Linked DNA regions of Homo sapiens. The protein of the gene in region 7 purifies or fractionates together with the protein of the main gene of each other region. This does not show direct contact. Each region holds a gene or a part of one and is shown on either strand. Other genes may lie near its edges. The genes, in order: DHX36, ERICH5, PLEKHA5, DLAT, NSUN2, SEPTIN11 and SLC32A1.

The links.
Region 1: the proteins of SLC32A1 (region 7) and DHX36 purify together in Homo sapiens (affinity purification with mass spectrometry; one large-scale study listed by BioGRID and IntAct). This does not show direct contact.
Region 2: the proteins of SLC32A1 (region 7) and ERICH5 purify together in Homo sapiens (affinity purification with mass spectrometry; one large-scale study listed by BioGRID and IntAct). This does not show direct contact.
Region 3: the proteins of SLC32A1 (region 7) and PLEKHA5 purify together in Homo sapiens (affinity purification with mass spectrometry; one large-scale study listed by BioGRID and IntAct). This does not show direct contact.
Region 4: the proteins of SLC32A1 (region 7) and DLAT purify together in Homo sapiens (affinity purification with mass spectrometry; one large-scale study listed by BioGRID and IntAct). This does not show direct contact.
Region 5: the proteins of SLC32A1 (region 7) and NSUN2 purify together in Homo sapiens (affinity purification with mass spectrometry; one large-scale study listed by BioGRID and IntAct). This does not show direct contact.
Region 6: the proteins of SLC32A1 (region 7) and SEPTIN11 purify together in Homo sapiens (affinity purification with mass spectrometry; one large-scale study listed by BioGRID and IntAct). This does not show direct contact.

What each region holds. Positions count from the first base shown.
Region 1 is NC_000003.12:154,300,488-154,303,987, forward strand, and holds part of DHX36 (ATP-dependent DNA/RNA helicase DHX36), read right to left. Parts: intron 2,924-3,500; coding exon 2,842-2,923; intron 641-2,841; coding exon 500-640; intron 210-499; coding exon 107-209; intron 1-106.
Region 2 is NC_000008.11:98,067,568-98,071,067, forward strand, and holds part of ERICH5 (glutamate-rich protein 5), read left to right. Parts: intron 1-3,500.
Region 3 is NC_000012.12:19,356,733-19,360,232, forward strand, and holds part of PLEKHA5 (pleckstrin homology domain-containing family A member 5), read left to right. Parts: intron 1-1,495; coding exon 1,496-1,705; intron 1,706-2,679; coding exon 2,680-2,814; intron 2,815-3,500.
Region 4 is NC_000011.10:112,035,408-112,038,907, reverse strand, and holds part of DLAT (dihydrolipoyllysine-residue acetyltransferase component of pyruvate dehydrogenase complex, mitochondrial isoform 2 precursor), read right to left. Parts: intron 1,636-3,500; coding exon 1,448-1,635; intron 1-1,447.
Region 5 is NC_000005.10:6,619,545-6,623,044, reverse strand, and holds part of NSUN2 (RNA cytosine C(5)-methyltransferase NSUN2), read left to right. Parts: intron 1-944; coding exon 945-1,029; intron 1,030-2,746; coding exon 2,747-2,939; intron 2,940-3,500. UniProt on the Homo sapiens protein: RNA cytosine C(5)-methyltransferase that methylates cytosine to 5-methylcytosine (m5C) in various RNAs, such as tRNAs, mRNAs and some long non-coding RNAs (lncRNAs).
Region 6 is NC_000004.12:77,029,752-77,033,251, reverse strand, and holds part of SEPTIN11 (septin-11), read right to left. Parts: intron 2,470-3,500; coding exon 2,282-2,469; intron 1-2,281. UniProt on the Homo sapiens protein: Filament-forming cytoskeletal GTPase. May play a role in cytokinesis. May play a role in the cytoarchitecture of neurons, including dendritic arborization and dendritic spines, and in GABAergic synaptic connectivity.
Region 7 is NC_000020.11:38,723,131-38,727,285, forward strand, and holds the start of SLC32A1 (vesicular inhibitory amino acid transporter), read left to right. Parts: upstream 1-1,355; 5' UTR 1,356-1,594; coding exon 1,595-1,984; intron 1,985-4,155. UniProt on the Homo sapiens protein: Antiporter that exchanges vesicular protons for cytosolic 4-aminobutanoate or to a lesser extend glycine, thus allowing their secretion from nerve terminals. The transport is equally dependent on the chemical and electrical components of the proton gradient.

The DNA.
Region 1 (3,500 bases), on a different chromosome or scaffold from region 7:
CTTCCAGTCTATTTCATAAGCATTTAAGAAAACTGTATTTTTCATGGCCTTGATACGTTAATAAAATTAAAATTATGTTAACTGAAGAAAGAAAAATAAAACTAACCTCTTCTTCCAAAACAATGTATCGGATGAGGGCAACAATCAAATTCAGATCAACTTTATCATCCTCCATCATTTCTATAACATCTACAGTACTTGCAGAATACCTATCAAAGTTAAACACAAAGTCATGAAATACTTAATCAAGTTTTCTGTTAACTTGCTACAAAAGCTTAAAATTAACTCAATCTGCAAATGGAGGAACATAATCTACAGATCGGAGAGAATTACTGGGGTAATTACTGCTTAAAAGTCAAATCAGCACAATATTTAGCTCGAATAAGAGACTCACAATGCTCTCCTTTAAGTACGTACAGATTCAAGAAGATGCCCCCAGCCTCTGGCTTTTTGTTTTATTTAGCCACTGATTTCTCACCTTCAGACAAAATAAACTTACCTTCTTCGCAGTTCCCTTACATAATCTGGCCAACGTTCTTTATATATTGCTTCTTTTTCTTCTTTTTCTTGTCTATTTACATGCCCTTGCATGAAACCCCTCTTAAACTGGGATCTGTGTTCTTTTTGTTCTGGAACATACCTAAAATAAAAACATTCTTGAATATCTTCACTTTTTTGAAACTCTAGTTTTAGCTAAAATCTGTGACATTTTATATTTAGGATTTTCAAAAAGGATTCCAAAGAACATTTTCATTATGCTTTCAAGTGAATGCTAGCTAAAATATCAGTTTGTGTTCATTAACTTATAAAACCTGATATTTTGGATAAAAATCATTCTTCTTTATTGAAGTATATAAACCTATAGATCATTTTTAGTCAAAAATTTAGAAAAAGACTAAAGTAAGTAACTTTTACCTTCTATTTTAAGTTTGCTTTAGAACAAAAGTTAATATTAATGTTAAGTCCAAACCTGACTGCACGTAAGAATTGAATCCCTCAGAGAGCTTGTAAAATACAGACTCCTAAATCCCATCCCTGATGATTTGGATTTGGTAGGTATGCCTTGGGTCTGTTAATCTAAGAATTTTAATTAGTGCCTGCAGGAGATTCAGATAGTGTATCCAGATCTACAGACCCACGCTAGAGAACTATTTAATTCTGCTCAGTCACACAGTTGTAGTTAATGGCAGATCCAGAATCAGTATTCAAGTCTCTCATATGTCAATTGAGTGCTGTACTATGATTCTACTACCATCCTGTAGTGATTGCTAAAACCATAGAGGGCGCATCTGGACAATAATTCTACCTATCATTGTCAGTCCTGAGAGGCACGAGGTGGGAAAAGACAAAAATGAACCCACACTTTAACCCCAAGGCATCTCTGAGCTCAACTAGAGGACAGCATCTAGATGGAATGGGGGAGGGGCTGGAGCATGGACTCCCAAGTCAGAATATCCCTCCTCTGCTACTGACTAGCTGTGTAACCTTAGACAAGGCATTAAACATCTGGCCTTTAGTTATCTTATTTGAGAGATTAATGTTTGTAACAGTACTGGCATGAGATTTTTAAAAATGTGATAAAGTAAAAAAAAAAAAAAAAGTGATAAAGCCTCATGTATAGCACAAAGAGTGCTTCCCTAAGAGTGAAGAACATAGTACCAAAAGAGGAACTATTGTATTAGCACAGGAGAGATAGTAAGGACCTTAGCAAAGAAATAAAAATGAGAAAGCATGTTCAAGAAGAAAGTTCCCAGAGTTTGTGTGTGTTTGAAGGCAGTACAAAATGACTTGGATTAACTTGGTTACTCACTGTGTAAAACAGTTGCCATACCCTGGTACATAACTGCCTGATACACACTAACTTTTTGATTTATAGGTCAGAAAACTAAGTGGAGGATAATTATTAACCATTATAAAGTATGCTGGGCAAGACACATTGTTTTATTTTTTTGGTGGGAGAATATAAGATAATGATTTAGGCTTGAGAAATGTTAGGTTCAAGGCATCTGTGGTACTAGAATACTATTGAGCAGAAAGCCAGTTCGAAGGTCAGGAGAAGCTTCAGTTCTGAAGCTACACTACTGAAAGCTGTGAAAATACAGAACTACAGTTAGGGATATAAACAGGTTTGCACAGTGAAAACATAAATGATTGAGAAGACTGGGGGAAATTATATTTAAAGGTTCGGCAATGGAAGCCAACAAAGGAAAGTGAAAATCAGGCAGGAGAACCAGCAAAAGGGTTCAAACACTAAAGACAAAGGTTCCCAAACTTTGCTGCCCAGGAATCTTCAAAAAACACTGACACCAGCCAGGCGTGGTGGCTCACACCTGTAATACCAGGACTTTGGGATGCTGAGGCAGGCAAATCACTTGAGGTCAGGAGTTTGAGACCAGCCTGGCCAACACGGTGAAACTAGTTTCTACTAAAAATACAAAAATTAGCTGGGCATGGTGGCACACACCTGTAATCCTAGTTACTTGGGAGGCTGAGGTGGGAGAATCACTTCAACCTGGAAGGCGGAGGTTGCCGTGAGCGGAGATAGCTCCACTGCACTCTAGGCTAGGCGACAGAGAGAGACTCTGTCTCAATTAAAAAAAACCACGGATGCCTGGCTACTACCTCAGACACTGTAATGTAATTTAGGTAGGGAGTATAAATCAGGCATCTGGATTTTAAAAAGCTCCAGGCAATTTTAATGTGCAGCCAAGTGTGGCTAATTCCCAGAAAAATGTTTTACAAGGAAATAGTCAATGATGGGTTTCTGAGACTAAAGTTTGACATGAGAAAAGTGATATATTAGTACTTTTTAATGTTTTTTATTTCCTAATGTTTACTTACCTTATTTTTTCAATTACATCTTCCAAAAGATATTCCACAACCGGAAAGGTAAAACCAGGTATATGTATCATTGGACAGTTACCTATTACGGCAGACAAAATATAAGCATAAATTTGTACTCAAATGTTAAAAACATTAATATACTGTAAATAGGACAATGACTCTATTACTTACTATTAATTCCAGAAAATGGTCCTGTAGCTTTTACAATTCTACCCTACTTTTCCACACCTACTTTAATAAAAAACAGCAGTCTAGTCTTCACTCAATACCATTTTACTGCTACCAAACTGTACACACATCTCACAGTTCTACAAAATAACACAGAATATCAAAGAATAGAGTTTTAAGTTGAACTCAAAATCCATTAGTTAGAAGTCTATTTTCTCTTCATCATTAACCCAGATGGTGCCATAATAGAATATCCAGAATATCAAAGTTTTACTGAATTCTAGATAAGCATTACTACTTGTAGCACCCGGAATTAGCGGAGAAAGGTAATCAAAACAAAACCTAAACAAATAGATTGTTACTATTTCAAAATTACTAATAAAAAAATCACTTCGGTACTGTTATTTAAATGCTCTTTACATTTCATAACAAGCGAAACAAGCAGTACACACTGTAAAAAGCAAACATCACATCAGAGGTCAAAATAC
Region 2 (3,500 bases), on a different chromosome or scaffold from region 7:
TCTAAAAACAATGAAATCAATACAATACAATCAACAAATTATACTATGTATCTTTTTTTTTTTTTGAGACGGCATTTCGCTCTTGTTGCCCAGGCTGGAGTGCAATGGCATGATCTCGGCTCACTGCAACCTCGGCCTCCTGGGTTCAAGTGATTCTACTGCCTCAGCTTCCCGAGTAGCTGGGATTACAGGCATGTGCCACCACACTCGGCTAATTTTGTATTTTTAGTAGAGACAGGGTTTCTCCATGTTGGTCGAACTCCCGCCCTCAGGTGATCCACCCGCCTCAGCCTCCCAAAGTACTGGGATTATAGGCATGAGCCACCACGCGTGGCCTATACTATATATATTATTTAGGGATAGAATAATCCCTTATTATGATTCTAAATATTAGTCTAATCCCTAAATAAGATATATAGTATAATGTGTTATACAAATATTATATATTTATTTTATTTTTTATTTAAAAAATTGAGACAGGGTCTTGCTATGTTGCCCAGGCTGGTCTTGAACTTCCAAGCTCAAGTGATCCTCCCACCTCGGCCTCCCAAAGTGCTGGGATTACAGGTATGAGCCACTGTGCCCAGCCTATGTTATAAATTTAAATCAGACAGCAGCTACTAGTAGGTAGACATTAGGTTGCACAGGAATAATCTATTCTACTGATTATGTGGGGACATTTGCCCTGACCCATTAGACACTGAATCTCACGGAGCTGCTTCCTATCACCTCCCAAGATGACTGACCAGATAGGTGTGTGTGTTTGGGAGAACAGAGGTGAAGACTCTGATTGTTAACAATTATTAGTGCTCCTCACAGCGTAGAACAGTGCCTAATATGTGGTAGTCACACATCGATTTTTATGACGTGCCCTGAAATGTGTGAGGAAAGAGACTTTTCATTCCAAAGGATAATTAGACAGATTGAGTTTGGAATTTCTTGTGTTTTTGGAAGCAAGTTTTAAATATTAGGACAATTTCTGTTGTTTTGAGTGTCCTGAGGATCCGATGCAATCTGAACACAAAGGTTTTATTGACTCCACAGACCTTAATGTGCCTGAAGGTGTCTATAGACGTTCACATCCAAACCCTCCTCCCAGTGTTCCTAGCCCTCTGCTAACATGGATAATCACTGCTCGAATCTTTCCTAATATAAATGGGATCTGTTTTGGCAGACTTCTTTCCAAGGTGTTACAGCCCAAGCACCAAACATGGACAAAGTAAATAGGTGGTAATTATTGACAAGTTCATTGCTAGGTTAATGTGTACATTTCCACTGACAGCTATAATCATTTGTTTGTTCTAACCTGAACTTTCACTAGCTGCTTGCTGTCCATGCGGCCTAGGCAATCAGATGAAGCTTGAATTTCACAGTTATGTGAATTGTTCTTTGTACTGCAGTCATACCTTCAGTTTTCACCCAATATTTCACACTCTGACATCTAGTTAGGTCATCTGGTCCTAACTAGACAAAAGTTTTCCTTTTGAATTGAAGAACAAACATCATAAACATTAAATTTAATTTGTATAGGCTTTTCTTGCATATAGAAATTATATAAATGGGATTTTTTTTCTTTCAAATGTGTGCCTTGTGTCATTTCTGGAGCCTGGCACTTAAATAGCATTTGGTATGTCTTTGTGATAGGCCTGGCGATTGCATATGGCTAATTGAAATGGAATAAAAAAACTACATACATGGTTCAAAAATGTGAAAATATTTGGAAAAGGCAGGTCTGAAAAGTATACCTTCCACCCCATCCTCATCATCTATTTAGTTCGAATCACACCTGTGAATACACACTTATTATTTTAGGGTTTTTTTTTTTATATATTCTTTTGAAGTTTATTTATGCATTGCAAATATTATTTCCTTCTCTCATCTTTATTTATAAAATGTAGTGTACTATACCCACCGTTCCTCACTTTGTTTTTTTCACCTAACACTATGGAGATTTTTCCACATTTATATGCAGAGAACTTCTTTCTCCTTTTTTATACCTGCATAATAATATGTTCCTTGATTTATTTAACCAGCCCCCCTATTGAGGGACATTTAATTTGTTTACAGTCTTTCCCTGTTGCAGACAAGACTGCCATGAATTCCTTTGTGCCTACATCATTTTGAATGTGTGCAAGTATATCTGTAGGACAGTTTCCCAGGAGTGGCATTACTAGGTCAAAGGGTGTACGCACTGAAAGTTTTGATAGATAACTGCCTAAATGTGTTCTGTAAGACTTGAAGCAGTTTACACTGTCATCAACAATAAAGTAAATCTTTTTCTAAAACAGAAAACTTTCAGACATTTGTGCAGCCACATCGAAACATACACATGGGACAGAAGTCAGGAGATAAGGAGGGAGCATGCACTTGGTTTCAGGTGCTTTAGTTTGTGATCTTATTTAATCCTCACAATAGCCTTAAAACACAAACATTAATTGCACCAAATACAGCTAGAAAACGAAGCTTAATACAGATAAGTCACTTGCCCTGGTCTCAGAGCTAGTAGGTCTAGTAAGCCTACTTACTAGATGGATGGATGGACCTGGGGCACATGGCTAATGTGTGTGACTCCAAAGCCCCTGTTCTTTTCACAACTTCCAGTTCCATCTGGGATCTGGTCCTAGTTCTGCAAGAAACTTGTAGTGTGGCCTTACACATAGAACATATGCAATCAGCTGAGTGTGGACGCTCGAGCCTGTAATCCCAGCTACTTGGGAGGCCGTAGTGGGAGAATCAGGAGGTCAAGCACCACTGTACTCCAGCCTGGGCAACACAGTGAGACTTCTCTCTAAAGAAAAGAAAAAAGAGGCCGGGCGCAGTGGCTTACCCCTGTAATCCCAGCACTTTGGGAGGCTAAGGTGGGCAGATCACCTGAGGTTGGGAGTTCGAGACCAGCCTGACCAACATGGAGAAACCCCATCTCTACTAAAAATACAAAAAATTAGCCAGGTGTGGTGGCTAATTTTTTACTGGTATGCTGATGCCTGTAATCCCAGCTACTCTGGAGGCTGAGGCAGGAGAATCGCTTGAACCAGTGAGCCAAGATCGCGCCATTGCACTCCAGCCTGGGCAACAAGAGTGAAACTGCATCTCAAAAAAAAAAAAAAAAAAAAAAGAAAAGAAAAGAAAAAGAAAAGAGAATGAAAGAAAAGAAAAAAAAGCAAGCAATAACTGTTGAGTAGATGGATGGGTGAATGGGTGATTGACAGAGACGGGGATTCAGGGAGGTAAGAGTATTACTCAGAAAAGCAGAGGAGGAATCAGAACCTAATGAATACCAGAAACTGAAAGGTAATATTGGCCAAGATGGGCTTAGAAAGAGTGTCGGGTTGTGTATAGAGCCTCCTAGCTATGCAGGAAAAGGTTAGCACTGTAAAACAACGCTTGATTGTCTGCCATTAAATCATGCTTCTGGGCTGAGTGCAGTGGCTCATGCCTGTAATCCCAGCACTGTGGGAGGCCGAGGCAGGTGGATCACCTGAGGTCAGGAGTTCAAGACC
Region 3 (3,500 bases), on a different chromosome or scaffold from region 7:
TCATTGCAACCTCTGCCTCCCGGGTTCAAATGATTCTCCTGCCTCGGCCTCCCGAGTAGCTGGGCCTACAGGCGCCCGCCATCATGCCCAGCTAATTTCTGTATTTTTAGTAGACACAGGGTTTCACCATGTTGGCCAGGCTGGTCTCTAACTCCTGACCTCGTGATCTGCCTGCCTCGGCCTTCCAAAGTGTTGGGATTACAGGTGTGAGCCACCGCGCCCGGCCTAAGCATTTTCAAATATGACTGATTTATAGAAAATAAGTGTTTTCGTAGTTTTATTACTGATGAGAAAGAAAATAGAGGTGTTTGTTTTATTAGTCTTTTCACGGTAAATGTATAACTTAAAACATTACGTTTTCATCAAAATAAAAGAAATCTCTAATATTTAGACACTGTGCCCCTGCTTTTCTCCTCATTTGAGTTTTATTCAGTTTTCTCTTTCAGGGTCAAGTTTTATGCAATTTTCTATTTCAGGGTCATGGGACTGGCTTGCTCCAGAGCTGCCATATTCTTTATATTCTTTTTTTTTTTTTTTTTTTGAGACAGACTCTCACTCATTGCCCAGGTTGGCACAATCTCAGTTCACTACAACCTCTGCCTCCTGGGTTCAAGCAATTCTCCCACCTCAGCCTCCCGAGTAGCTGGGACTACTGGCATGAGCCACCATGCCTGGCTAAATTTTTTGTACTTTTATAGAGACAGGGTTTCGCCATGTTGGCCAGGCTGGTCTTGAACTCCTGATCTCAAGTGATCCACCTGCCTCAGCCTCCCAAAGTACTGGGATTATAGGCGTGAGCCACTGCACCCAGCCTGCCCTGCCCTTTTATGGTGGTGGTGATGGTGTTTTTTGTTTTACCCAGATTTACTGGAACTGAGTTATGGGGGTTTGTTTGTTTGTTTGTTTGTTTGTTTGAGATGGCATCTGGCTCTGTCATGTCATCTGCATGCTGGAGTGCAGTAGCACGATCTCAGCTCGCTGCAACCTCCACCTCCTGGGCTCAAACCATCCTCCTACCTCAGCCTCCCAAGTAGCTGGGACTATAGGCATATACCACCACACCTGCCTGGCTAATTTTTGTATTTTTGGTAGAGACGGGTTTTTACCATGTTGCCCAGGCTGGTCTCAAACTCCTGGGCTCAAGTAATCCACCCACCTCAGGGTCCCAAAGTGCTGGGATTATAGGTGTGAGCCACCACTCCTGGTCCATATTTTTTTTTTAAGCCAAAAAAATATTTTCTATTCCTCTTTTCTCTCTCCTCCCTTATAATATCGTCTCTTTTTCTTTCTGTTATTGAGCATACATCACCAATTACTAGTTAAGGATCAAATAGCAATTTCATGTGCCTTTCTGGTGATATCTAAATGACATTCAAAACCTCTTCTTGTGATTTTGAAAACAAAATAAATAAATGCACTTTACAACATTTTTTATTCCATCATACTTTTCAGAAGTTTTCATTTATGTATTGATATGTTCATTTTTACATTGAAGGAAAGACCAAGAAGTGCAGTGGAACAGCTCTGTTTGGCTGAAAGTACTCGACCAAGGATGACTGTGGAAGAGCAAATGGAAAGAATAAGAAGACATCAACAAGCGTGCCTGAGGGAGAAGAAAAAAGGGTTAAATGTTATCGGTGCTTCAGACCAGTCACCCTTACAAAGCCCTTCAAATTTAAGGGATAATCCATTTAGGACTACTCAGGTATATGAATTGCATTTGATTATTATTTTGTGTAAATCTAGTATCACTGAATTTTGGAATCAGAGTTACATGATTGATAGGTCTTAAAAGGTCTGCAGTATGGATACTTATTTTATATTATTTAATTCTCCTAATAATAAGCTAAGACAGCTAAGTAAAATGTAAATAACCCTGAGTTCAAGAGACCAGAGCTAAACTACATGTTGGATGCCCGTGGACTAGTTGTGGACTTAATGTCTTCAACTTTACAGTGATGATACAGCTGCCCAGACTCCTTAGAGACACTAAGAAAATAAAAGGGTTTTCAACAAATGTAAAATGCTATGCAGGTTACCAAGATAGTCCCCAATTCCCCTCTCAATAAAATATGTATTGCTCTGTGTCCTGATTTAACATGACCTAAATTGTAGCAGGAGAGAGCTTCTAAATAAAGTTCCAAGTGTGCTGTCCATCACCTCTCAACTTCAGGCTTATAAAGTGATGCCATTTTGTTTCTTTTTGTTTTTTGCCCCTCTTTATAAATTCAGAGACAGCAGCCTAGCCAACCTGTTCAGTAGCTTCTGTCTGGTCTTTCCCTGTTTGTAGACACTTGTCACCTAGCAATAGTATCTTAAAAGTTTGTCTATAATGGCATAAACTGAATGCATCAGCTGAACATGCTTTCCTGTCCTAATGAATATCCCCTCTTTCCACCGAATCAAGTGCAGGCATTGCTAATGGAGACTAAACAAAGCAACAGTTTGAATTGTGGCACATTCTGCAAATTACAAAATGAATGGTTTTTTTTAAAAGAGTTGAGAAAAATGTGTGGAATAGTGCTATATATATAAATTTTCTTTGTTAGTTTTCATAGGAAAACTTCTTCATGAGTGGAGATCCAGCTTTGTTCTATTTTGAGAATTAACAGGCACTATTTATAAAATATACATGCATGCACAGTATGAGTATAAAAATGCTATATGTCTTTTGAGCAGACTCGAAGGAGGGATGATAAGGAACTGGACACTGCCATTAGAGAAAATGATGTAAAGCCAGACCATGAAACTCCTGCAACAGAAATTGTTCAACTAAAAGAAACCGAACCCCAAAATGTGGACTTCAGCAAAGAGGTAGCGAGATTATTTTATGAAAGGTATTCCAAAGGAATAGATTTGTGAAGATTAAATCAAGTGGTAAGGTTGAAAATAAAGTGTGTTTCTTTCAGTCACAGAGTCCATAGAGCTAAATGAAAAAATAAGCTTTCTGGCCGGGCGCGGTGGCTCACGTCTGTAATCCCAGCACTTTGGGAGGCTGAGGCAGGCGAATCACGAGGTCAGGAGATCGAGACCATCCTGGCTAACACGGTAAAACCCCGTCTCTACTAAAAATGCAAAAAAAAATTAGCCGGGCTTGGTGGCAGGCTCCTGTAGTCCCAGCTACTGGGGAGGCTGAGGCAGGAGAATGGCGTGAATCTGGGAGGCGGAGCTTGCAGTGAGCCGAGATCGCGCCACTACACTCCAGCCTGGGCGACAGAGGGAGGGAGACTCCATCTCAAAAAAAAAAAGAAAAAGGAAAAATTAAGCTTTCTTTAGTTTGATTGATGTATTCAGCCACATCAAGATATGCATTAATTGACTGGGCACGGTGGCTGGTGTGTGTAATCCCAGCACTTTGAGAAGCTGAGGCAGGCGGATCACTTGAGCCCAGAAGTTTGAGACCAGCCTGGGCAACATGGTGAAACCCTGCCAATACTGAATACAAAAATTAGCCAGGTGTGGTGGCATGCACCTGTAGTCCCAACTGCTACTGGGGAAGC
Region 4 (3,500 bases), on a different chromosome or scaffold from region 7:
CATCACCAACATGATTTTTATTTTTAATTATCCTAACTTCTTTTTTTTTTTTCTTTTTATTTGAGACAGAGTCTTGCTCTGTCACCCAGGCTGGAGTGCAGTGGCGCAAACTTGGCTCACTGCAACCTCCGCCTCCTGGGTTCAAGCAATTCTCCTGCCTCAGCCTCCCAAGTAGCTGGGATTAAAGGCACGCACCACCACGCCCAGCTAATTTTTTGTATTTTCAGTAGAGATGGGGTTTCACCATGTTGGCCAGGCTGGTCTTGAACTCCTGACCTCAAGCGATCCACCTGCCTCAGCCTCCCAAAGTGCTGGGATTACTGGCATGAGCCACCACACCCAGCCAGCTAATTTCAAAATATAAAATTATGCTGTAAGGCCCCATGTTGAAAAGTATCTTAAGAAATACGGCCAGGTGTGGTGGCTCACACCTGTAATCCCAGCACTTTGGGAGGCCGAGGTGGGTGGATCACCTGAGGTCAGGAGTTCGTGACCAGCCTGGCCAACACGGTGAAACCCCTTCTCTACTAAAAATAAAAAAATTAGCCGGGCATGGTGGCTAACACCTGTAATCCCAGCTACTCGGGAGGTCGAGGCAGGAGAATTGCTTGAACCCGGGAGGCATAGGCTGCAGTGAGCCAAGATCACGCCACTGCACGCCAGCCTGGGTGACGGAGCAAGACTCCGTCTCAACAACAACAACAAAAGAAATCCAACAACAATGCTACTTGCCAGCTTCCCACAAATGTACAGTAGTCAGAAATCAACTTTTCTCTTATAGAAATGTTTACCTAGTTTAAACTCACATGATTCTAGCATCTGTGAGAATCACTGAAGCTTCACTGTCAGTGTTATCTCTGGTTGGAGTTATACAAGTTCAGGTTATAGTTATATAGTGTATCAAGTATTTGGTGATATAATAAATTCTAGGCAAAACAAGTCATGTCAAGGTTCCACTGTATCACAAATATATGCTTGACCTACTAAGTCAATAACAAGAGGATTTCAAGTGACAGAGATTATTCAGTATATTTAATAATAAATGGGCAATGAAGTGAGCTATGATTGCACCACTGCACTCCAGCCTCAGCAACAGGGTGAGACCTTGTCTCTTAAAAAAAAAAAAAAAGGGTGGGGCAATGAAGCCTTACTTTCCACAAGCATGGTATCTGTATCTAAAGCAGAAAGAGAACATGTCACTCAGCTTTGTTCTCAGCAGGACTCTAGATAGCAGGAAGAAAAAAGCTACAAGGCCCAAACTATCAACCATTAGGTGAACAGTGCAGTACAACAAACACTATAGGTCTCCACAAATGTTAATAAACTATCTCCCTCCTCAGTCATAGAATCTTGGAGGTGGAAGGAACCTAGGATATCATCTAATCAAAACTCCTTAATTTAGAGATGAACAAGGTAAGTGTTTCCTGAATTCTAGAAGCATACCTACCGGGGGTGGGGTAGGTGGTGGCACTTGTGGTTTTAAATCTGTTACTTCGGTTGGCCTATAGTCAGCAAATGCTGATATATCTGCCTCTTTTTCTACAATGATACAGAGTGGGGTTCCTAGAGGGACATCTCTTGTGCCTTCAGGGACCAGGATTTTTGCCAGATAACCTTCTTCCTGTACTTCAAAACCTTAAATAGAAAGAAAAAACATTATGGGACTTAAGAGATTCCACTATCCCTCCAAACTCACAGCACAGTTTTAAGTAAAGTGATTTTTCTCATTCAAGCTAGCTATATAGCCTTTTTTGCAACCTATTTAACCTTCTGTGTCTTGGTTTCTTTACCTACAATACGGGGATAATAATAGTACCAATCTCACTGGATTGGTACTGGGATGTTATACATTTAAACAGATTAATATTTTTCAAGTTCTTAGAAATAATACAACCTGGTACAAAGTAAATGCCAAATAAAAATCTGTTCAATAAAACTATGAAAGATTACAGACAGTGGTTAGTTCTCAAAGTTATTAAAAAATCTCCAAGGACAGTCCCCATGCAGACTCACAGGACTCTAAGATGGTGTCAGCTATGCTGCTAAAGATAAGAACCACATACATGCCTAATTAAGGGAGCTACCAACCTAGATACTAATGTTGGATTTCAGCCCTAAAAGCATCTTTGGAACTTTTCAAAGAGGTTATACTTGATATTATACCAAGTATTTCAATGTAAAGAATTACAGCTTTACTGGGATTTCTATGGTGTTGACAACTTATATTTTATTCAACTACTGCCTTCCTTGCAAAGAACTTAAACATTTAGGATTGCAAAAGTAAAACTAAAAGAAGCCATTGGCTTTCTGTACTGTTGTGCCTCTCCTTGATGAACACATCTTTGATGAATCCTTCCATTTCCCAGCTGAGAATACCCAATAAAAAATATGTTTAGGCTGGGCGCGGCGGCTCATGCCTGTAATCCCAGCACTTTGGGAGACCGAGGCGGGTGGATCACCTGAGGTCGGGAGTTCGAGACCAGCCTGACCAACGTGGAGAAACCCCGTCTCTACTAAAAATACAAAATTAGCCAGGCATGGTGGCGCATGCCTGTAATCCCAGCTACTCGGGAGGCTGAGGCAAGAAAATCACTTGAACCCAGGAGGTGGAGGTTGTGGTGAGCCGAGATCGTGCCATTGCACTCCAGCCTGGGCAACAAGAGCGAAACTCCGTCTCAAAAAAAAAAAAAAAAAAAAAAAAAAAAACACACACACACACACACACACACACACACACACATATATACACACACATATATATATATACACACACATATATATATGTTTAAGTCTGGAGATATATATATATATGTTTAAGGCTGGGCACGGTGGCTCACGCCTGTTATCCCAGCACTTTGGGAGGCCAAGGTAGGTGGATTACCTGAGGTCAGGAGTTCAAGACCAGCCTGGCCAACATGGTGAAACCCCATCTCCACTAAAAATACAAAAATTAGCCAGGCATGGTGGCAGGCGCCTGTAATCCCAGCTACTTGGGCAGCTGAGGCAGGAGAATTGCTTGAACCCGGGAGGTGGAAATTGCAGTGAGCCAAGATCATGCCATTGCACTCCAGCCTGGGCGACAAAGCAAGACTCTATCTCAAAAAAAAAAAAAAAAAAGGCTGGGTGCGGTGGTGGCTCACGCCTGTAATCCCAGCACTTTGGGAGGCACAAGGCAGTCAGATCACGAGGTCAGGAGTTCAAGACCAGCCTGGCCCACATAGTGAAACCACATTTCTACTAAAAATACAAAAATTAGCCGGGCGTAGTGGCATGCACCTGTAGTCCCAGCTACTCAGGAGGCTCAGGCAGGAGAATCGCTTGAACCCAGGAGGCAGAGGTTGTGGTGGGCCGAGATCACGCCACCGCACTCCAGCCTGGACAACAGAGCCAGACTCTGTTTCCAAAAAAAAAAAAAAGAAGTGTTTAAAATGAAAAGGCTCCTGGGCCACAATAGACTTCAAAGTTCAACCAAGGTAACACTTCTCTAGTGACTAGTCTCT
Region 5 (3,500 bases), on a different chromosome or scaffold from region 7:
CTTTTTTGTCCTACTTAATTTTTATGGTTTAGAAAATTTTCTCCCCTTTAGTTTTACTGATTTGTTTACCATATGGATTGTCTTCAGTGATGGTGATTGGCTAAATTAGGTTGAAAATGATAGTGAACATGTATTGAGAGCTCATTGTATGGCAAGCATTACTCTGTGCTCTTTTTTCTTTTCTTTTTTTTTTTTTTGAGATGGAGTTTCACTCTTGTTGTCCAGGCTGGAGTGCAGTGGCGCGATCTTGGCTCACTGCAACCTCCGCCTCCTGAGTTCAGGCAATTCTCCTGCCTCAGTCTCCCAAGTAGCCGGGATTACAGGTGCGCACCACCACACCCTGCTAATTTTGTATTTTTAGTAGAGACGGGGTTTCTCCATGTTGGTCAGGCTGGTCTCGAACTCCCGACCTCAGGCGATCCGCCTGCCTTGGCCTTCCAAAGTGCTGGGATTACAGGTGTGAGCCACTGTGCCTGGCCTTGCTCTGTGTTTTTTAGGTGAATTAGTTGGCTTTATCATTCACACAACCCTCTAAGGGCAGATACTGTCACCATCTCCATTTTTCCAGATGAGGAAAAGGAAGCAAGGAGAAGTACTTGAACTGAGGTTACGGAGCTGTTAACTGGCTGAGCTGAGATTTGAGTCTAGGTAGCTCTGTTCCTTAGCATTATGTTTTCATGATTCTTACTTGTTCATCTCTATATTTAGTCTCTCTGGCTTACAGTTTCATTCTCCTCCCATCCTCTTTGGAGACTGTACCTATATCATTCTGTGATTTTGGGGCAGTGTAGAATCCCTAAAAGTAAATTATGTCATGCTATAGACTCTGTAAAGAAGTATATTTAGATCTTGGACTAGAAATTGAAAAACTAGAATTGCTTTAAATTAAATGTAGAATATTTGGTTTTTTAAAAACATGAAACAGTTTCTTGCTTTGTTAATAGATCTTAGATATGTGTGCAGCACCTGGCTCAAAGACCACACAGTTAATTGAAATGCTACATGCCGACATGAATGTCCCCTTTCCAGGTATGCATTGGACTTGTGTTCAAAATGGTAGGAATGCCACTTTGGCAGATTGTAGACAAGGAAAAGACTCTAACTTTGCCTGCTAATTTGGCTCTAAAGTCTCCTATGACAAGCAGTTGGGTTTTCCGTCTACCGGAAGTAGAACTGGACATCTTGCCTACCACCGTCAGTAGTACTCAAACAAACACACTCATACCATGGGGGAGCTTTATTTTAGAATTATGTGTGTTTTCTATAAAAACGAATGGCATTTCTTTTTTTTTTTTTTGAGATGGAGTCTCACTCTGTTGCCCAGGCTGGAGTGCAGTGGCGTGATGTTGGCTCACTGCAAGTTCCACCTCCTGGGTTCACGCCATTCTCCTGCCTCAGCCTCTCGAGTAGCTGGGACTACAGGTGCCCGCCACCATGCCCGGGTAATTTTTTGTATTTTTAGTAGAGACGGGGTTTCACCATGTTAGCCAGGATGGTCTCGATCTCCTGACCTCGTGATCCGCCCGCCTTGGCCTCCCAAAGTGCTGGGATTACAGGTGTGAGCCACCACGCCCGGCTGCAGATGGTGTTTCTTTATCAAGCCTACTTACAGAAGATAGATTTCACTGTTTGAATTTTTAGTAACAATTTCCCCTTTCCCCCACCTTTGTTCATTATTATTACTATTATTATTATTATTATTACTTACTGCCTTACATGAAGGGTAGTAGTGTGTAGTTAAAAGCTACCATCAGACTCCCTGGGTTCAAATCCTAATCGGCAAGTTACTTACAGTGTTAGACATCCCATGTGAAATGGGACGAATCAGTATGTAGCTTGCGAGGTGCTCAGGAAATGTTAGCTGTTATAGTGACACCACGCCCCTTTCTCTTAAGTGGAAACAAATACCCATCGTGATGTTTTAGAGTCAGCTTTCATCTCGTCCTATCTTTGTTCAGGCAAACTTCTCTAGTTCTGTTTTAATAGGCATATTTGTTAGGTCTGTTTTTTGAAATCCTCTTTTTTACATTGTTTAAAGATAATGCCTTGGCTAAAAAGCCTGCTTCACTTTTCCCTGTTTTTAGTTGTTTTCTCCACATTGGCAGTAAAGAGCCTTGGCGTCCCAGTAGCAGCAGGTTCTCCTTTTTGTATTGTGGATGTTTTGCATTTCATACTGTTGTGAAGAGTGGCTTTGATCATACATGTTGTTGGTATATTTGCCTTTTTGCTGGGGGTGTGAGAAGAACCAGAGATGAGCAGAGGTACACCCAGTAGACTTCCCAGCCTGCAGAGCCTCCCGGGAAGAGCTTCCGTGTTCAGGTGCTTGGGGCCCCACCCTAGGAGCCTGACTCACAGTCAGAGCAGGGTCCCGGCTTGTGTTCAGGATTTTGAAACATTTGTAAGGTGATTTTGTTGTTTCTACACCTTTCTCCTCATCTTTTTTTTTTGTAGTTAATCGTTACTAATAACAGAAAAGACATTTTTGGCATGGTAATTGGCACAAAGTGAATAATTGTTGAATAGATGACTTTTGAGGCTTTCAAAATTCGAGTGTCCATAAAATCCATCCAGAGCCACCTGGTTCCTTTTTTTGAACCACTTAACGTAATTCTGGAAAACCTTGACTGTGGGTCTTAAGTTTGGTGGATTGCTGCTTCTCACTGGCTGACCTTTGGAGGTCGCATATTTCAGGATGTGATTCCACTTAGGCTCCATTTCACCTGACACTGCAATTCTGTGCCTTCAGAGGGATTTGTTATTGCGAATGATGTGGACAACAAGCGCTGCTACCTGCTCGTCCATCAAGCCAAGAGGCTGAGCAGCCCCTGCATCATGGTGGTCAACCATGATGCCTCCAGCATACCCAGGCTCCAGATAGATGTGGACGGCAGGAAAGAGATCCTCTTCTATGATCGAATTTTATGTGATGTCCCTTGCAGGTATTTATCTTATTGGCCAAAAAGCCCAAATCCACTAAAGAAATCAAGTCAAATAGAGACTAAAATGAAGTTGTGCATGAATATGACACAATTGTACATAAGTCTTGGGGTGCGGAGAAAGATAGCGTGAGCCTAAACCAAAAGATGGACACGTAGATACGTCTTAATGAGAAGCAGCACAGCAGATGCTGGATAAAGAACAGAAAGGGGTGGTTGCAATAGCCTGCAGAAAGATAAAGAGAAAACAAAACAAAACAGAGAAAATACGTAAGAGGAAAATAGAATCGTAGACTCTTATTGTGGTGTGTTTTAGGATGTTATTGCTTGGAACAATTTGTGCACCCCAACTATTTTGTATTAGTTCTTCCAGTGAGTACAGTATATAAAAAACTTTGTCATAAAATAATACGTAATCACATTGGATTTTATGTTATTTAGTTGAATGAAAGAAATTTCGGAGTTCAAGCCCTTAAGAAATTCATTTTGCTTGTGTTTTTATACCTTTCTTGAGATAATACATCAACATTTTAGATATTTAGAGTTTAGATATAAAATAATACT
Region 6 (3,500 bases), on a different chromosome or scaffold from region 7:
TGCTCTGTCTAGCCTGGCCACTGTCTTTCTGCGGTCCCTCTAACCAAAACACTCCACTACCACTGGCAGTAAGAGGTGTGATTTTTTTTTTTCTTGGACATTTCAGGCCTCCACTGGCAGTTGCTTTCACTGTACAAATGTAAAGTGTGGAAAAGGGTAAGGACCTAGAAAAAGTTATACAAAAAATATGTGCCATTGTCAGGTGCAAAACCTGGCGACTACTCTGAACCAAATTAAGTATAATATCCTTCAAAATAAATGAGAATATATAAATAAGCTAAAATAGAATCCACACAGGCTTCATAGAAACTTTGAAAGCATTACACATTGGTAAGGCCCCAGGATAGGAAGAAAATAACCTAACATGTTCAAAAGGGCAAGGAAAAACCTCCCTACACTGGGAAGTTTGTTACTAAATAAACTTTTCTAAAATGGAAGCACAATAATGATCAGCTCTTGGAATTTTTATTGCTTAAAGGCACGTCTAGTATACACGAAATACTCTTTTAACATTGCTGGTCTTTTGGAAACATTCTTAGTTTTAAAACTTGAACCTTTATGCACTGAGTGCCTCAGGGTGAAAAGAAAAACTTGACTTTGCATTTCCTAAGCTGTAAGTCAGCAGCTTTTTGTCTCATTCATACCTATAGATGTATGTGTACACACACACAAACACACACACACAGACACATACACACCCCTATATCCTTGGTTAGTTTAGCTTGGATTAACAAAGGTACAATGCCCAATGGCTTTCATCTGTCTTCACTGGAAGAGTCACTGTAATCTGAGTCTCTGCATGGGAAACATCACCATTAGTGTTAGATGCTCTCCCGACATGCATAGCTACAAAGGGTTTTCTTAGATTATAATCTATGTGCTTGTTACTCTCAGAATTAATCCAGCATAACTAAATTTTGGGCCTTGAACTCCTTTGGTCACTTGGATCTGTGCCAACTCCAAATAAAATCACAACCATTTCAATTATTGTTCAGAACATTTGCCTCCTCCCTTGCTCTGGTGATACATTTTCTGCTGTCTCAGAGCTCAGAATGTCAGTTTGTAAAGCATGATTTAAAACTCTCTCAGTATGTCATTGTAGCAGTCCATTTTTATTTTTACTGCAGGCAACATGAGATTCCTTAGGGGTGAGCCTACTGCACATTCACCAAGACTAAGTGGACAATAGCACTGTGCTCACTTTTCCCTATAACACATCTCAATTATTGTGCAGAGACTTGATCCTATGTACTCTATGTTTAAAGAATGTAATTCTTTATGTGCTTGAGCATCAATGTTTTTACATATGGTCAGCTTTTTCCCTAGAACCTTGGCATGTAAGGCGAAAGAGCAACACTTCCTGAAACAAGTTCTGAGTTGCTTTATATTAAATAGCTGCCCTAAAGCACCGTACATTAGACAAAGGAGGGTGGCATCTGCATATTTGTCATTGAGACACCACAAAGGTTTTCGTTAGTGGTATTCTTACCATCGTGCTTCCTGTCAAAACCGATAGCATTGACATAAAACTAGGCTTTATGATGATTCAAAGGAGAGCTTCAAATCACAGGAGAATGTCAAGGGAGGCCTAAATCTCCCACTGGTTTCAGGCAGCTGCTACTGGAGTATCACAGGAAGTGACCAACTCAAGAGCAGAATCTGACCCTTTGGCACATGACATTAAGACCCTATTTAAAAAAAACCTTTTATGAATGGGTTTAGGTTTGGCTTGAGGTTGGCAGAGGTGTCAACTGGATAGGCATTTGGATCCCATTTCACAATAAAACAATTCATCATATTGAATTTTGAGGAAACTAGTGGCCACTAGCAGCTCTTCCAAATGTTTCATTTTGGGAACGAGAATTTCAGTGACTGGCTTACGAAGTCTTACAACACAGAATAGGAAAATAATTTTAACAATTGTGATTTTAGGATGCTCTCTATCAAGAGTCATGAGAATTGTCTTCAGAGGGTGCTGAAGAGACATCAACCTGTCTTCTTTGAGACTCCTAGTGTTGGTGTGGAAGATGCTACTGGAGACAACAGGTTCCTCCAGGCCTGATTGCTTGGTCAATTGTGGTAAAGTTTTATAAATTAATCTTTGTGTACCTTTTAAAAAAATTTAAAAACCTTCATCATCTTCCCTGCACTGTAGAGAAAATACTTGCTTTTATCTTTCTGGTAAAGGACCAGTTTCCAGTCTGTAAATGGGAAAAGTAGAGACATGCAAGAGGAATAAATTGTTAGAGGTCCCCGATACAGGGGGGTGACACCTGCTTACTTTTTCTTATCCTTGTCTTTCTTGGTTTGCTGGGCCCCAGATTGCTGGGCCTGGGACTGTAGTAACTGAGCCGCTGCTTTCTTCTTCTGGAAGTTGTTCACCTCCTCCTCAAGCTCCTTCTTCTTGTCTTCCACTTTCTTCTTTTCTTCTTGGTGTGTCCGCTTTAGAAGGTCAAACTTCTCGTGAAGCTGGAGAGAAAAAGAAAACAGGCTTGGTGAATGGAATGAAAATCCTTTTGATGTAAAGTTCTTTGGATCTGTTCAAAAAACAAAACATGGCCAGGCACGGTGGCTCACGCCTGTAATTTCAGCACTTTGGGAGGCCGAGGTGGGTGGATCACGAGGTCAGGAGTTCAAGACCAGCCTGGCCAAGATGGTGAAACCCCATCTCTACTAAAAATACAAAAATTAGCCAGGCGTGGTGGCGGGTGCCTGTAATCCCTGCTACTCAAGAGGCTGAGGCAGAGAATTGCTTGAACCTGGGAGGCGGAGGTTGCAGTGAGCTGAGATCGTACCACTGCACTCCAGCCTGGGTGACAGAGACTCCGTCTCAAAAGAAAATAAAAGAAAACAAACAAATATGTGTCATGTGGCTGCACTGGCTTTAATACAGGTGTAAAGTACCATTTTGCTGACTTCCTGGAGGAGCTGAGCTGGGATGCTGAAGAGCATCCCTCAGAGTCCCAGACTCCTGTGACACTAGAACTCCTTGGGACTAAAAATTCCTTCGCTCTGTTGCCCAGGCTGGAGAGTAGTGACACAATCTCAGCTCACTGCAACCTCTGTCTCCTGGGTTCAAGCAATTCTCCTGCTTCAGCCTCTCGAGTAGCTGGGATTATGGGCATGCGCCACCACACCCAGCTAATTTTTGTATCTTTAGTAGAGACGGGGTTTCACCATTTGCCCAGGCTGGTCTCGAACTCCTGACCTCGTGATCCTCCCACCTTGGCATCCCAAGGTGCTGGGATTACAGGCGTGAACCACTGCACCTGGCCAAAAATAATTATGATCCCAACAAAAAACTCACCCTAGTGGTAAAAGTGGTTCTTTACCTCTGGTCCTTTTTCGAAATGTATAAAAAACATTTACTTAGAAATATATACAATGACTACATATATGTATGTGTTTGTATATATATACACATATATATGTGTATGTATATATGTGTGTATATGTGTGTGTATATATATGTGTGTGTGTGTGTATATATATATATATGC
Region 7 (4,155 bases):
GGAGGAGCCCGGCCAGGACATCAGCTGGGGACTTACGCAGGGACCCATTCAGAGCAGCGGACCCTCACGGAGACTACTACAAAGGGACTAACACAGGCACGAACGCAGGCAACCCCATTCGGGAACACATACGTAATCCAACACACTAGCTCTGGCACACACACTGGAATGCGCGCAAAACCACACAGACACAGAACACACGCGGTTACCAAACCTCATTCTCAGAGGCCACACTGATCCAACCTCAAGCAGAGTCTGATACAGCATCGGTCTTTGTCTCTGGGTCTCTCCCTTACTCGCGCTCACACACCCGTACCCCAATCAACACAAACAGCCCAAGCTTTCACAGCCTGGAGGCGGCCGTCGGAGCAGGGCCCCAGCGCACCGCGAGCCTCTGCTTCCTCCGCCTTGCAGCGCCGCGAGCCCTTCTTTCCTCCGCGCCTGGCCCCGTCTGCGCCCCTCTCGGCGTGGGCATTCGCAGACCCGCTAGGAGGCTGACGAGAGGTGTCCTCATAGAGTCCTGCCTTCTTCCAGACCCCCAAACGAAAAGAAAGAGAAAAGCCAACCTTTCGCCTCCATTCTGCACGCATTTGGAGAGCGGCTGGTGGCGAGCGATCCGCACAATCGCTTCCCTCGCGGCGTCCCTGGACGGGCGGAGAGAACCCGGGTGACTGAGCCTGAGGCTGAGCTTCCTTGGGAGCGATCCATGCCAGCCACTTCTACCTTCAAGGGGGACTCGCGGCCGGGTTTACGCGCGAAGGATGGGTGCCAGGGAAACTGACTTATAGACGACCCGCTCCGCGAGAGACTGACAACTCAGTCCTGCGGGCTTTCGGGGCGCCCAGACCAGTCCTTAGCCAGAGGATCTGGGGCTGCACAGCTCCCGGACCCTGGAGGGGGTGGTCCGGGGGTGGGAGACTGCGAGCATCAGCCCACGCCGGCCCCCTCCCACCCTGCGGCGGCGAGGTGGGAAGGGCCAGGATGCGAGCTTAGCACCTCCCCTAGAAATGCAGCACTTCGCCCCCCCACCTCCCCTGCCCTCGGCGCTCCCTCTTTCACGCGCTCCCTCCCGCCTCCTTCCCAAGGGCGCCCTTCTTCTGCCCCCAGCTCACGTCTGAATCCCTCGGCGCCCCCTTTCTCTTCTCCTAGCCCCTTCCTCACGTCCCCTGCCTCCGGGTATTTCCTCTCTCCAATCCCCCACCCCCGCACCGCCTGATTCCGAGGGGCGGGAGCGCATTGGGCTGCGCACGGGTGGGGGCGCCGCGCCAGCTTCGCGTAGCTGCTCTGACGCCGCTGCCGCCGCCGCCGCCGCCGCCGCCCTCCGCAGCCCAGCTCGCGCCCCGCGGCAGCTCCGCAGTGCACTAGCCACCACCGCCGCCGCCGCCGCTCCGCCAGACCTGCTGCCAGCTTGCCCGGTCCAGCCCTGAGAGAGCCTCGAACGCCAGCTGCGAGGGTCATGAGCCAGAGAGCCCCGGGGCGCCGCGCGGAGAGCAAGCGGAGATAGCGACTTTGCGCCCCCCAGCCCTCGCCTTCTTGCATCGCGTTCCCCGCATCCTCGGGTCCTTCTGTCCTTTCCGCTGTCCCCACCGCCGCCATGGCCACCTTGCTCCGCAGCAAGCTGTCCAACGTGGCCACGTCCGTGTCCAACAAGTCCCAGGCCAAGATGAGCGGCATGTTCGCCAGGATGGGTTTTCAGGCGGCCACGGATGAGGAGGCGGTGGGCTTCGCGCATTGCGACGACCTCGACTTTGAGCACCGCCAGGGCCTGCAGATGGACATCCTGAAAGCCGAGGGAGAGCCCTGCGGGGACGAGGGCGCTGAAGCGCCCGTCGAGGGAGACATCCATTATCAGCGAGGCAGCGGAGCTCCTCTGCCGCCCTCCGGCTCCAAGGACCAGGTGGGAGGTGGTGGCGAATTCGGGGGCCACGACAAGCCCAAAATCACGGCGTGGGAGGCAGGCTGGAACGTGACCAACGCCATCCAGGTAAGCGCGGGATTCCCAGTTCTGCCTGTCCTCCCCCCTCCCAGCTCAGCGTGCCGGGCTCTGCCCCCGACAGTCGCCCGGTGATCTCGGCCTGGAGACCCCCTCCTGTACCCAGGAATCTCCCTTTCTCCATCCCTCCCAGCCCTGCGCGGGGACCTACGCCCCCAGGCGGTGTTTTCCGCCCTAACCCACGCTCCCTCCCAACGGCACCAGCTGCAAGACCGCTAGGCTGAAGTTCGGTCTGAGACACCTGTCCGGAGACACTGCAAAAGTGAAGGAAATGGGGGGAGGGAGCAGGAAGCGATGAGAAAGAAAGAAAATCAGGATTGGAGGGCACGGTTTGGTCTTGGACTCTGGAACGGATTCACAGCTGCATTTTTGGGAGGAAAGAAGAAGGGGAAATCGCTGAGGTCGGAGTCTCCTCCCCCCGCACACACGCATAGACACGCACACGTATATAGGCAGGCACACCACATGCCCACAGCCCCCCTTCCCACGAACAAAGGCGCAGGCACAGGCGCACACGACATGTATCTATATATAGACCACAGTACTATCCCCAAATGCACCTGCGTACACCCCTACAGCTCCACAAACAAAAGCATATACCTGCACATACCAAACACACGAATATTCGTTTGAACATATGCACACACACATGCACAGATGCATGCAGACAGGAACCAGCCTGCTCCCTTGGGTGCGGCCCTGTTGGAGACATACAGGTATACACACACGAAAGCACACACATGCTCCCACACAAACACATTTAGTCCGCAATAATCCAGCATTACCTGTGCACAGACTCGCCCCTCTCGCCCGAAATCCCGGCTGCACCGCAAAGAGGCGGCCAGCTCCTCCCCGTGTGACCCTGGCGAAGCCCTCTCCAGAGGCTAAGAATGGCCCCTGCTCTCTAGGCCCTCTCCCCTTATTCCTAACCCCCCACTCCCCACCAGGCGGCGCAGGACTCCTACATAGGGAGCAGGTTTGGAGTCTTGGCAACGACCTCCGAGCTAGCAGGGGCTGGCAGGCCGCAGCTTTCTGGGCCGAAGGAGACTTCAGCTCTAGGCAACCCCGGTCCCTTACAGCTTGGCCCCGCGGCGTCCCTGGAGCGCACTATCACTGGGGCCACGGAAGGCAGGTTTTCTGGGAGCAGAGGCCTCCCAGGGGTTGTTCCATGTATCGGGGTAAGCAGGACTCCACCGGGCCCCGAACACCAGATGGCCCGACCCAAGGCGCTTTCCGCTCCGGGGCCCGGCGAGACGGCCTTGCTGGATCACGGACCCGGGGCTGCTCCCGCCTTCGCTGTGCCCCGCGACTTCCCGGGGCGTCTTTCAAGGCTCCGTTTGATAGGCCCCAAGGGAGGCCAGGGCAGGAGGCTGGAGGCTCGTAGGCCTCCGGGACCCTGGATTTCGTTAGCTCTTAGTCCCCGTGTGGATTCTAAACCCTACAGCCCTGTCCGCCTGACCCTGAAGCTTCTGGTTCTAGACTCTTGCTCGGTTCGGCTTTCTGGCCTCCCTGGCGCCTTCCCGCCAAGCTCCTCCTCCTGCTTGCCTCCCCAGCCTCCACTTAGTCCCCTTCCTTAGGTCTCGCCCTCGCCTCACTCTAACTCCAGCCTTGTCCTAAGACTCTCAATTTCCAGCCCTGCTTCCTCCTCCCCGCGCGCTGCTCCCCAAGCGTCTTCACATTGTCTCTGTTCTTGCCTCCCAGGGGCTTTGCCCCACCTTCAGCCCCTCTCCCTCTCTACCCTATTTCCTTTTCGCCTCACAACTGCAGCCTTTAACGTTTCCTCCTCTGGTCTGAGCCTGAGACGCCCGAGTTTTCCTCTTTAGCTCCCGTGCCCCATTCCAGCCCCACCACAAATCCCGTGCCCACTCTTTCCACTGGCCCAGGCCCAGCTCACTACCTTTCTTAGAGCCCCTTTCCGACTACGCTCCCTTCTGTCCCTTCTCATCTCCTCCCCCAACTCCTCATTCTGTTCCTGTCCCCAGAAACCATCCCGAAGTATCTCCCTTCCCTCCTGTGGCTTCTCCCTATTCTCAGCCCTCTCCCACCCTAGCCCTCTCGCTATCACCAGCCATTAGCGCACCTTTCCTTCTCAGATCCGTCCATACATCCCTCCCTCTCCATCTCTGGCTCGACACCCGGGCTCACTATTAGTTCCCCTACAT